Linked DNA regions of Homo sapiens: region 2 is linked to region 1. The links come from fine-mapping of genetic effects on gene expression. A gene starts in region 1. The other region holds a variant in brackets. All regions are shown on one strand. Distances are between the middles of the regions. Region 1 holds the start of VPS37B (VPS37B subunit of ESCRT-I). Region 2 overlaps VPS37B (VPS37B subunit of ESCRT-I).

Region 1 (5,520 bases):
TGAAATGGGATCCTAGTAACTTTCAGGATGATCTGGTATTAATGATTGTCAGTCATCTTTCAAAAAGAGAACTATTAATATAAGTGATTAATTATTGCAATTACTTTTTATTGAGCCCTACTGATGGGCTGTGTTAAGTACTAATAGGCATCATCTCACCTGATCCTCACTCTATGAAATAGGTATTACTGTCATATTATCCTTTTCCAACAGATACTCAGGCAGGTGAAGTGACTTGCCTGCAATCACACAGCTGGGAAGCGGCCAAGTCCAGTCTGGAGTGTGTGATTCCAAAACCAGAATGTTCTTTAACACGCCATCACAAATGTTCCATTTGGTCAACAGTTCATAAAATATTTTCTTCTATTGTGTCTCACAATTACCCCCAACATAAGCCAATGCATAGCATTACCAGATGAGTGAAACTACCATGACCAAAAATTTCGGTTCACATTACACCCATTCCGAGAAAGGCACACCACACATGACCAGGACGACAGGATTGACAGTGATCCTCGCTAGGTGAGCTAAGGTATTTTGGTTTTCAAGTTGTTTCCTTGTTTTAAAAGCACTACACCCAGAAAAGCAAACTACTGCTGAGTAATTTAATGTGAACTATGCAGGCTTATCAAGTGGAGTCGCTCAGGCCTCAATACTTCTCTTGGGTATTCAGGTATGAAGGTCACTTTTACTCAAAAAAAAAAAAAAAAAAAAAAAATCCTGCCAGATGAATTTACCTTTCTCTTTAAAAAATAATCTTCAGGTTCTGAGGTAGAGGAAACAGGTGAGGTTGTCCCTAACAGCCTCCAAGTGAACAGAATGAACTTGATTCTTTCCACAAGCTTCCCTCCACTAAAGGCAGTTTATTTCTATTAATGTTCCACCAACAAAGCTACAGTACTCAGTTCTTACTGCAACAGAATAGTCACATATACCAAAATAACTTGTAGGCAGTGTTACACATTAGAAAAATATACCTATCATTTTATTATTAAACCAGAAAAACCCTGCTGACAATCAACAAAAGGTCTCCCAGCAACTGAAAAGCAGAGAAACTAAGCAAAGATTTTTTCTTTGGAGACATGAAACTCATTCAGCTAAGAAGGATGGATTTTATCACTTATTATTCTCCAAAATGGAAGGTGCCACATGGAGACCATAAACGGGGTACACTGCATCTTGGAGCAACGTTATTATGTGTCAAGTTACAAAGCCCATGAATACAAGGGGTGTATTAATGGAAAGACTGATACCATCTTACTACAGTGGCCTCTCTGTAGCTCCGGACAATGATCTGTTGAGGGTTTTCCAGGGATTTTGAATGTGCAACCTCCATACAAGCTCTCTTTTAAGGGGGCTGGCTTGGTGCTGAACAATCCCTCTTCGGAAAGAAAGCCAAAAGCCCCCACACGGGCTCCTGGGTGAGAGGCTCAGCACTGTAGGCGTGGGAAGGCTCAGACTTCAGAGACATAAAGGAGTGGTAGGTGGGCCAGGAAGAGCTGGGATTAGCCTGGGCCCACCTGCCTGGAGGAGAACCAGACCCAAAAGATCAGACTTTCCGAGAATGAGTCCAAATGGGTTGAGAGAAAGGGAGCACACACTGCAAATCTGCAAGGATGAAGTCAGTTACCCGAGAGCAAACCACACCTCAAGGTGTGAAGGAAGATAACCAGAAACAGGAGCTGGCACATGCCTTCCAGGGGCTGGGCAAGGCTTGACTCTCAGAGGTGAGGGTTGGCAGCCAGCCCCAAACCCCCATTTTAACTTCTTCCTGAAACTGCTCCAGGAACCTTCCTTAGTCCCAGACACGTGGGACGCAGTGGTACAAAGCCAGCCACACTAAATTTCCCACCTTCCCTTCCTCGGTGGAGGGGGCAACCCTTACAGAAAAACGTATCCTGTCGCCACCCTTAGGCCCATCCACGAACTCCCGTAACTCTGCTGGGGCCACTTCAAAAGAAGTCAGACTCCAGGGGCATTATTGGGACCCCTTAGATACATGGAACCTTCAAACCTTACCCTGGCTATGGTATGACCATGGACTCCTGCCTCCAAACCCTGGGCTGGGGACCCTCGCCCAACCCTTAAAGAGCCTCAGAACCACCTCATAGACTCAGCTACAGACCCTCAGCCTCCCGAACCCATCTTGGAACCCTCAATCCTCTCCTAAGAGTCCTATTTGGATAGTCCACTCAGTCCCCCAAAACCTACTCTGATCCCCTATAGCTGCCTCAGTCCCCCTGGTTGTCCCCAACCTTTCCTCTCAAAGGAAACCCCCCAACCTCTACCAGATCTAGCTCTTGGTCCCCCTCAGTCACCCCTAATCCTCGCCTCCGACTCAGCCCTTATTACTCTCCCCGCTCCTCCGACCAAACCAATCTCAGATCCCCCCAGTTCCGTCCTCTTCCGCCTAGACCCAACGATAGCACTCTAATCCCCAAATTCCCATTCCAGGCTCCCTAATCTCCACTTCAGACCCAGCCTTAAGTCTTCAGACCCAGCCTTAAGTCCTCAGCCCCACAAAACCTTGTCTCAGGACCCCCAATCGGCTCCCCAAGCCCCGTCTCAGGACCCTTTTTCCCGCCTCCGCCCTAGTCTCGGTCCCCTCAGTGCCTCAAACCCCCTCTCAGGCCCCCTATTCCTGCCTAAGCACCAGTCGCGGTTCCCTGGCTCCCGCACCCCGCCCCAAGCGCCCCCATTTCTAGCCCAGTCCCCTCAACACGACCGGAGGCGCCGCGGTCGCCTCCGCCTCCGGCCACCGTTCGAGGAGCGAACCCCGCTCGAGGCCTCACAGCCGCCGCCTTAAGCCCAGCTCGGCTCACCTCCTCCATCTTCTGCACCATCTCCGTCAGCTGGCCCTCGTCCTCCAGCAGCTCGTTGAGCTGCACCAGCGACAGCCCGGCGAACCGGGCTTCGCTCCCGGCGCCCGCCATCCCCACGTCTCGGCCGTCGTCGCCACCGCCGCTGCGGCCACCAGGCTCCGCCGACCGGAAGCGCCGCCCTCAAGGGCCGCCCCCCGCGGGGGGGACACGTGACGCCAGCCCTGGGTCGTGACGTCATCACCGCGCGGGCGGGCGGACGTGACGTAAGTGTCGCGGCTCGCTTGGAGTGGAATGTGTCAGGGACAGTCGGGACTTCTAAAGGGAGGGGAAGGGCCCTATGATTGGGCTGTGACGCGTGAGCGCATTAATGACGTCACTGCGGCTCGGGAGAGCGCGCCATGAGGTCATAAGAGCCTTTTTCCTCCAGGAAGAGAGATACCGCGATCCAAGGAAAACAGGCAGTGGGAAGGAAGTTCCCGCAGCCTGTGAGCCCAGCCCGATGCACGGAACCCAAAAGACAGAGACTTCATGGGGAAACAACTTTAGGTGTCATTGGTTACTTGGAATTGTGGAGCTGCCACGTCATTCATTTAACAAATATGTTTTGAGACCTACTCTGTACTGGGCATTGAGTATACAGTTCTGAATAAAGCAAAACGGACCCCTGCTTACATGGAGCTAACAGAATGAAAGAGGACGCAAACAAAACAAGAAATAAGTAAAATAATTAGGCGATCACAAATAAGGGAATGGACACTGAAATAAGAAAATAAAAAGACCTTTAGGGTAGTAAGAGATGGCACTTTCGGAGAAGGTGGCGTCTAAGGAAATGTGAAGGATGAGAAGGGAGGAACCAGCCACCATTCCTGTAGGAAGCTCAAGGCAGCAAAACCAGCACGTGCAAAGGCCCTGGGACAGGACTAACTTGGTGCATTCAGGAATGGGAAGAAGGCCAGTAAGGCTGGAGCATTTTGAGCAAGGACCCATTGAGTGGCCCCTTTGCATCACCTCAGAGGAAGGTGCCCAGACATCCAGGTGGGCCAACCTGTGCTCTTTCAGAAACAACACGATTTAGGGTGCAGTCGCTCTCAGTCTCTCAGCTACCGGGAAGCCTCTTAAGATCCAGGAGCCTGGGAACTCATTATCCTACTTTGGAATCTGTCACAGTTCTAGTTAGAAGAAACCTAAGGCTGAGGTTAACCATGACAGCCCCCTAATTTTACACATAAGGGAACTGAAGCCCTGAGAAGGGGAAATTTTTTGGGCTTTTGCTTTGTTTCTGAAAATCAAGTAATTGGCAGGTCTCCTGGCTCCCAGTCTGGCGTCCACCACGCTGGCATCATAACACACTGACCTCGTCTCATAACTCAGCTCTGAACACAGTCGAGGCATTCAGCAAATGCTTATCGGCAGACTTAGGGGCTTTGTGTATAAAGCTGATTCTTCTGCAACTCCATGGGTAAAACATAAGGTCTGTGTTCTCCATCCATACGTTAGGCTGGGCTCTGCCAACCTCTTCTCTCCTTCCAGCCCGTTGTACTAAGGGCTCGTGTTTGCAGAAAAATGATGAAAGTTAGAGGAACTATTGCTTTTTTTATTTTTTGAGACAGAGTCTTGCTCTGTCGTCCAGGCTGGAGTGCAGTGGTGCGATCTCAGCTCACCTCAATCTCCGCCTCCTGGGTTCAAGCGATTCTCCTGCCTCAGCCTTCCAAGTAGCTGGGACTACAGGCATGCGCCATCACGCCAAGCTAATTTTTGTGTTTTTAGTCGAAATGGGGTTTCACCATGTTGGCCAGGTTGGTCTCGAACTCCTGACCTCAAGTGATCCGCCCACCTCAGCCTCCCAAAGTGCTGGGATTGCAGACCTGAGCCACCCCGCCCGGCCAAAAGAAATGTTTCATATAATCCGTAAGCTAAAGGTTTTTTTTTGTTTGTTTTGTTTTGTTTTTTTTTTTTTTTGAGACGGAACCTTGCTCTGTCGCCCAGGCTGGAGTGCAGTGGTGTAATCTCAGCTCACTGCAAGCTCTGCCTCCCAGGTTCACGCTATTCTCCTGCCTCAGCCTCCCGAGTAGCTGGGACTACAGGCACTCGCCACCCCACCCAGCTAATTTTTTGTATTTTTAGTAGTGACGGGGTTTCACCGTGTTAGCCAGGATGGTCTTGATCTTCTGACCTCGTGATCCGCCCACCTTGGCCTCCCAAAGTGCTGGGATTACAGGCATGAGCCACCGTACCCGGCCAAGCTAAAGGTTTTATTGAGCTCAAAAGGACACTCGGTAATTTTCTTCCTTCTAACTTGTTATACTTGGTGAAGAAAGATGGCTCTAAGGAGGAAAGGACACAAGTGGGAAGGAGATGTAGGAAGCTGGCGTTTCTTTTTTCCTTCTCCCTCCAGGAGAAGAATAGACCTGTCAAATTGAGAATAGTAGCTCTATTTCCAGGAAATCCTCTCTATGAGGCTTAAGATGTCCAGGAATTTCTCATAGTCCCCACAGAAGGTGAGAATAAGGTAGGGGTCAGAGCTCTCCAGAATCTAGAGGGATGATGTGATTTAACCAAGAACATACCCCAGGAACAAAACTGGCTTCAGAATGGCATACCTATATACAGTGACCTCTAAACGTACTAAGTTTAAACACGGCTCACTTGCCACCCTTGCCCAGTCCTTTTATAACTATTCTCATACTTGCTATCTGCC
Region 2 (5,000 bases), 26 kb before region 1:
CGTGGTCTAGGCACAAGGAGAGGCAACGCCCAGCTGCTTCCAACACTGCCCCCTCCCTGTAACCACCCAGAGGGCCTCGCTCCTGCTCCAGATCCCAGAGGTCATGGGCTCAGGCTTCAGCATGAGCTGCCACTAGGTGGAGAGGACGACAGCCCTGCTGCGCACCCCACCACCAGCGTGACAGGCAGAGGAGCTGGCCTTTGGGTGAGGGCTCCGACTCCTGGGTCCCAGGCCTCTCTCGAGCCCGCTGGAGTCCAACACCTCCTTGCTTCCACCCGGCTGCACCCTGACTGACAGACTCGCCCTGGGTGGGTAAGCAAGACAGAAACACCTGTGCCCCCAGGGCTTCAGAGTTCATCGAGCCCAGCCCTATCTTGGCAAGACCCTGCCGGCCCCAGCCTGCAACAACTGCACAACATTCGACCTTGACTCATTTCCTTATCGCCTGGCGAGGCTCAAGGCTCTAATGCGCAGCTGGACGTGTCCCAGAAGCTCTGTAGCCTCCTCCCAGCTGGCCCTTGAACGACGGCACGTGGTAATCCGCCACTGGCCCCAGGGGCCGGCGTTCACAGGGTGGCACGCATGCCCTCTCTTGGCCCTCGCTCGGACCTGCCCTCACTCACCCCGCTGCTCCCTGGACCCCTGCCTGGCACTTTCCCCAGCACACAGGCCAGGCTGCCTGCTGGTATACAGCCCGTACACCTGGGAGGCACCACTCCTGGCCGTGGCGGTGTGGCACTCACGGTCCCTGGAGGCAGCGGGCCCACGGACTGCCCAAAGCGCCCCAAGGATTCCACCAAGGCTGGTGGGCTTTACCTCAGTGTCTTCCTCAATCTTGGCCCCTTCTGCCTGAAGAAGTGCTAACAGGGTCTCCAAGGAAGCACTGCTAGACTGTCTGTCTGGAAAAAAAGCAAGAGGTATGACAAAAGTGAGAGGTGTCCAGGTAAAGCCCTTCATGATGCCAACCACGGCAGGATTGCACCTTCCTTTCCAGGAAGCTGAATGTGAAAGGCTTGAAAACCTACAGGGGAACAAGTGCACCAAGCCAGTGCCCAGGGGCCAACATCCCATGTCAGAGCAACCTGTGTCACCAGCTGCTTCTAGAACCAGCTGTTTTCAAATATGGGGCAGTGACATTCTCATCATGCCACTTTGTATTTCCTTTATGTTTTGAGTGGTAACTTACATCGAGTATACACATCTCAAGTGTGTAAGTCAAATTTCCACGTGTTTAACCGCCAACCACCACCCCCCAGATCCAGACACAGAACCTTTCCACCGGGCGCCCTCACGCCCACTGCACCCGCCAGATAACCCCTACGCTGGCCTCCACCACCACAGAGGAGGTCCGCCTGGTCTTGACTCCACATCCTGGAATCAGAGAGTACAGGTCATACTCTCCTGGCTTCTTGCACTCAGCACCGCGTCTCTGAGACCCTGCTCAGGTCTGTGAATCAGTTCGTTTCTTTCCAATGCTGTGTAGTGTTCCATTGTGTAAACAGACTTTATGTGCCCATCACTCTGTAGACGGACATTTTTATTGTTTCCAAATTTTATTATAAGGTAATAAAGATACAACATTCTTGTACCTATCTTCTGAGAGACATTAATATCCACTTCTGTTGGGTATACACCCAGGAGCAGAGCTGCTGTGCAGCGCATACACACTCTTCATTCTAGCAGGTGCTACCCAACAGCCTTCCCCAGGTGAAATGAGAAAAGGAGGTGGCTGTGGCAGTGCAGCCTGCAAGCCCCAGATGACCCATGGACACTCCTACCAGCAAGATGCACGGCACCTCACAGCACTTGGTACTGCCAGTCTTTTTACTTTTCGTCATTCTGGTTTGGGTGTATGATCGTAAATTTTTACTGAAGTTAATGGAGAAAATGACAAGATGATAGCAAGTAGTGACAGACATCACTGTAAACCTCACTGCAGAAGGTGATCTTTAACCCAAACTCTTTAAAGGGATGGGGTCTCTGTCACCCAGGGTGGAGTACAGTAATGCAATCACAGTTCACTGTGGCCTCAGCCTTCAGAGTAGGTGGGACTATAGGCGAGCACCACCACCCCCAGCTTATTTCACTTCTTTTGTAGAGACACAGTCTCGCTCTGTCGCCCAGGCTGGAGTACAGGGCTGCAATCATGGCTCACTGCAGCTTCAATCTCCAAGGCTCAAGCAATCCTCCTTCCTTAGCCTCCCAAGTAGCTAGGACCATAGGCGTGTGCCACCACCCCCAGCTCTGACTTTATCTAAATGTCCCTTTGATAACTATCAAAAGCACTTAGGATGCTCAACAATCTTTAATTCTGATGTCTCCTCCTAATGGCTG[C/G]AAATTAAAGTATGCCATTAAAATAAAGTGTTTCAGTGATGCTTTTTTTTTTTTTTTTTTTACCATTAACAAACAGCATAAGACAAACGGGCAAACGTCATAAGACATCTGTTTAATATCATAATTCAGAAAGCTTTTTCTATGCTGTTTAGAGAAGGTGGGGTCTTGAATTTAAAAAGTGGTTAAGTCTCCTCTTCTAAACTGGTGACTGCTAAACTGGCTGGCTTCCTCCTAATCTCCAGCCCCTTTTCTGGTAACTGCCCCGAGGTACCCACGTTTCTGCAACCTGCTTCACACTGCAGACCCTGGAGGTGCGTGTGGACCTGGGCTGACCTCAGCAGTCACCGCCACCAGTCAGGGCCACTGGGAGGAGGGGGCAGTCCTGCTATACACCCTGCCCTCTCGAACCGCAAGTGCAGAGAGGCCGCAGGTCTGGGGGCCCTCCATATTCCATACATAAACTAGTCCAATACAGTGGCTCATGTCTGTAATAGCAGCACTTTGTGAGGCAAAGGCAGGAGGATGGCTTGAGTTCAAGACCAGCCTGGGCAACATAGCAAGACAACCTCTCTGCAAAAAAATGAAAAACTAGCCTGCTTGGGGTAGTGCACACCTGTGGTCCCAGCTACTCAGGAGGCTGAGACAGGAGGATCACCTGAGCCCAGGAGGTCGTGCTGAGCCATGGTTGCGCCACTGCACTCCAGTCTGACAGAGCAAGACCCTGTCTCTAAAAATAAATAAATAATATACATAAGCTATTTGTTCATTGCAGTAGAGTCGCTATCTTAACCTGAAATTTTTCCGTAATATTTCTTTCCTGGTAGGGCAATAGCTTGAAAATGTGTCCTTCTCTCAACTCTTTATTCTCGAATGATCACCCTTAAAAAGTTACCTAATTTGGTCTTCTTTATCTGATAGGCTTCAAAGAGAACCTGGAGTTCCTGGTATTTCTGGGTCAAGCGTGCTTTCAACGTGTCCAGCTGGGGCTGGTACAAAAGGTTTCCTTCTGCCAGGCTCCGGTTGCTGGCAAGTGTCATTTCTTTGTTAAGCTGAACATTCTGTGTCTGCAAGGAACACACAAGATGATGAGAACCAAAAGTATATCAGCTCCTAAACCCCTGAGGTCCCCACGCACACCCCAGGAGCCCAGTGCAGCTGCTGCCACCTCACTGGTCTCCACAGCTGGCACCGCATGCCAGGCAGATGCTACTGACCCAGAGCCAAGCCCCTTGGTTTCTCATTTGGAGCTGCTGCCCGTCGTAAAGAATGAGGCCGACTTCCTTCCAGCACGTTTCCAGGACAGGCTTTGTCCTGTGACTCCATGCAGAGCCTTCCCTGCCACGGCTGCGCTGTGACTTGAATTCCTTACTACGGCCATTGTGCTTGCAGAAGTAAACAGCTGTAAAGATTTAGAATCTGATTTTTTTCAAAACAAGTTTCTGCTGCTCCCGAGGAAGTTAAGGAATCACTTATCAGCAGGAGACCAGTTGGCATGATGTCAATTCAGGCTTCATAAGCAGGCTAAGAGGTCCAACCAGCAAGCTGAAGAGACCCTGGGAAGGAACTGTGTTTCCAGCCACCGGGGTTCCTCTGTCTCTCCCATGCCCACCCCAGCTCTTCTGAGCCTTCCAGCTCCTAGCTGTTGGTGGGTGAGCAAAGCCGACCAAAAGCTGGGGGAAGAGGGGGGACATATTTTGCCCATCAGGGATTTCATTTTGTCCTTTAAAGCAATGACAGGCTACCCTGGTAGGTAGAGAAGAAGCCACATGCCCAGAACTTAGGGGAGAACGACAGGAGTAGAAGGTCTGAGAAAAAAAGGCAAAACGCTCCTAGCAAAACTTAGCCAAAGTTTAAATAAAAAACACAAACGCGTGGGTACCCTAGTTCCCTTTTCACTCACTGGTGATCGGCTTCCTCTACCACAGCCCAGCCGCCGCCACCTCACTTTCCTTCCACACCGTCAGTTTCAACAGCATGCGATTCCTTACCCAGCGTGTGTCCCTGTTTCTCTTTAAGCAGCTCTTCTTCAACGCCACCCCAGTCATCTCATTTTCCCCTTAATATTTTCTACCACCCCACCCAGGCTATTTTTGCTGCGACTTCCTTCCTCTTAGTAGCTCGAGTATAGATTCCTGGCCATGCTGCCTCTGCTCCCCACCCCCAGTCATACCCGTTGATTGCTGTCATAGTTCCTGGTGCGCTCACACGAGTGCACACGCACCACACACACAAGGAAGAGCCTCAGGGAATCAGAGAACAAAGAAAGAAGCCCTTGGATCCATGCCTCAATCAGGAGATCCCTAACCCCAGCAGGAGGGCTCTTTTCAGCAGACAGTGATCTGCATCTCCAGACAACAGCTGCACCCAGGGCCCTAAAGATCAGGCTCTGCTGAAACCCAACAGGATTTAAATGACAATGAAAACCAAACCTCTCTCCCAACTCTAAAGTAAAAGCTAGGAGTGTCCTCGAAATGTGGGTGGTAGAAATGCTTTCATCTCTTCTGATGCCTTTAGCAAAAAAGGAGAATCTTGGGACTGGAAAGACGCAGTTTCACTCGGGTTTCTGGTAAGCAGTGGGGCTCCCGTCACCCGCTTCCCCACCCACAGGGCGGCTCTCCATGGGCTTTCTATGCCAGGCCATGCAGAAGCGTCTTTCCTTCCATTGT

Evidence for each region. PIP is the estimated chance that this variant, and not a neighbour inherited with it, causes the effect. A credible set is the group of variants that fine-mapping cannot tell apart.
Region 2: its variant is the best candidate, but not a certain one, in a credible set for the expression of VPS37B in blood mononuclear cells (TOPMed, PIP 0.85).

Annotation. Positions count from the first base shown.
Region 1 is chr12:122,893,130-122,898,649 of GRCh38, forward strand. It overlaps VPS37B (VPS37B subunit of ESCRT-I), which reads right to left and starts at 2,995. Exons shown (of 4, transcript NM_024667.3): 1 at 2,823-2,995. The coding sequence starts at 2,933. RefSeq lists an enhancer at 2,659-2,808 and a silencer at 2,989-3,138.
Region 2 is chr12:122,867,664-122,872,663 of GRCh38, forward strand. It overlaps VPS37B (VPS37B subunit of ESCRT-I), which reads right to left. Exons shown (of 4, transcript NM_024667.3): 2 at 3,227-3,398; 3 at 817-899. Among named protein-coding and RNA genes, the nearest start is that of VPS37B, 26 kb to the right of the region's middle. RefSeq lists enhancers at 4,033-4,540, 4,450-4,739, 4,541-5,000. The variant C/G (reference allele first, on the strand shown) is at 2,335.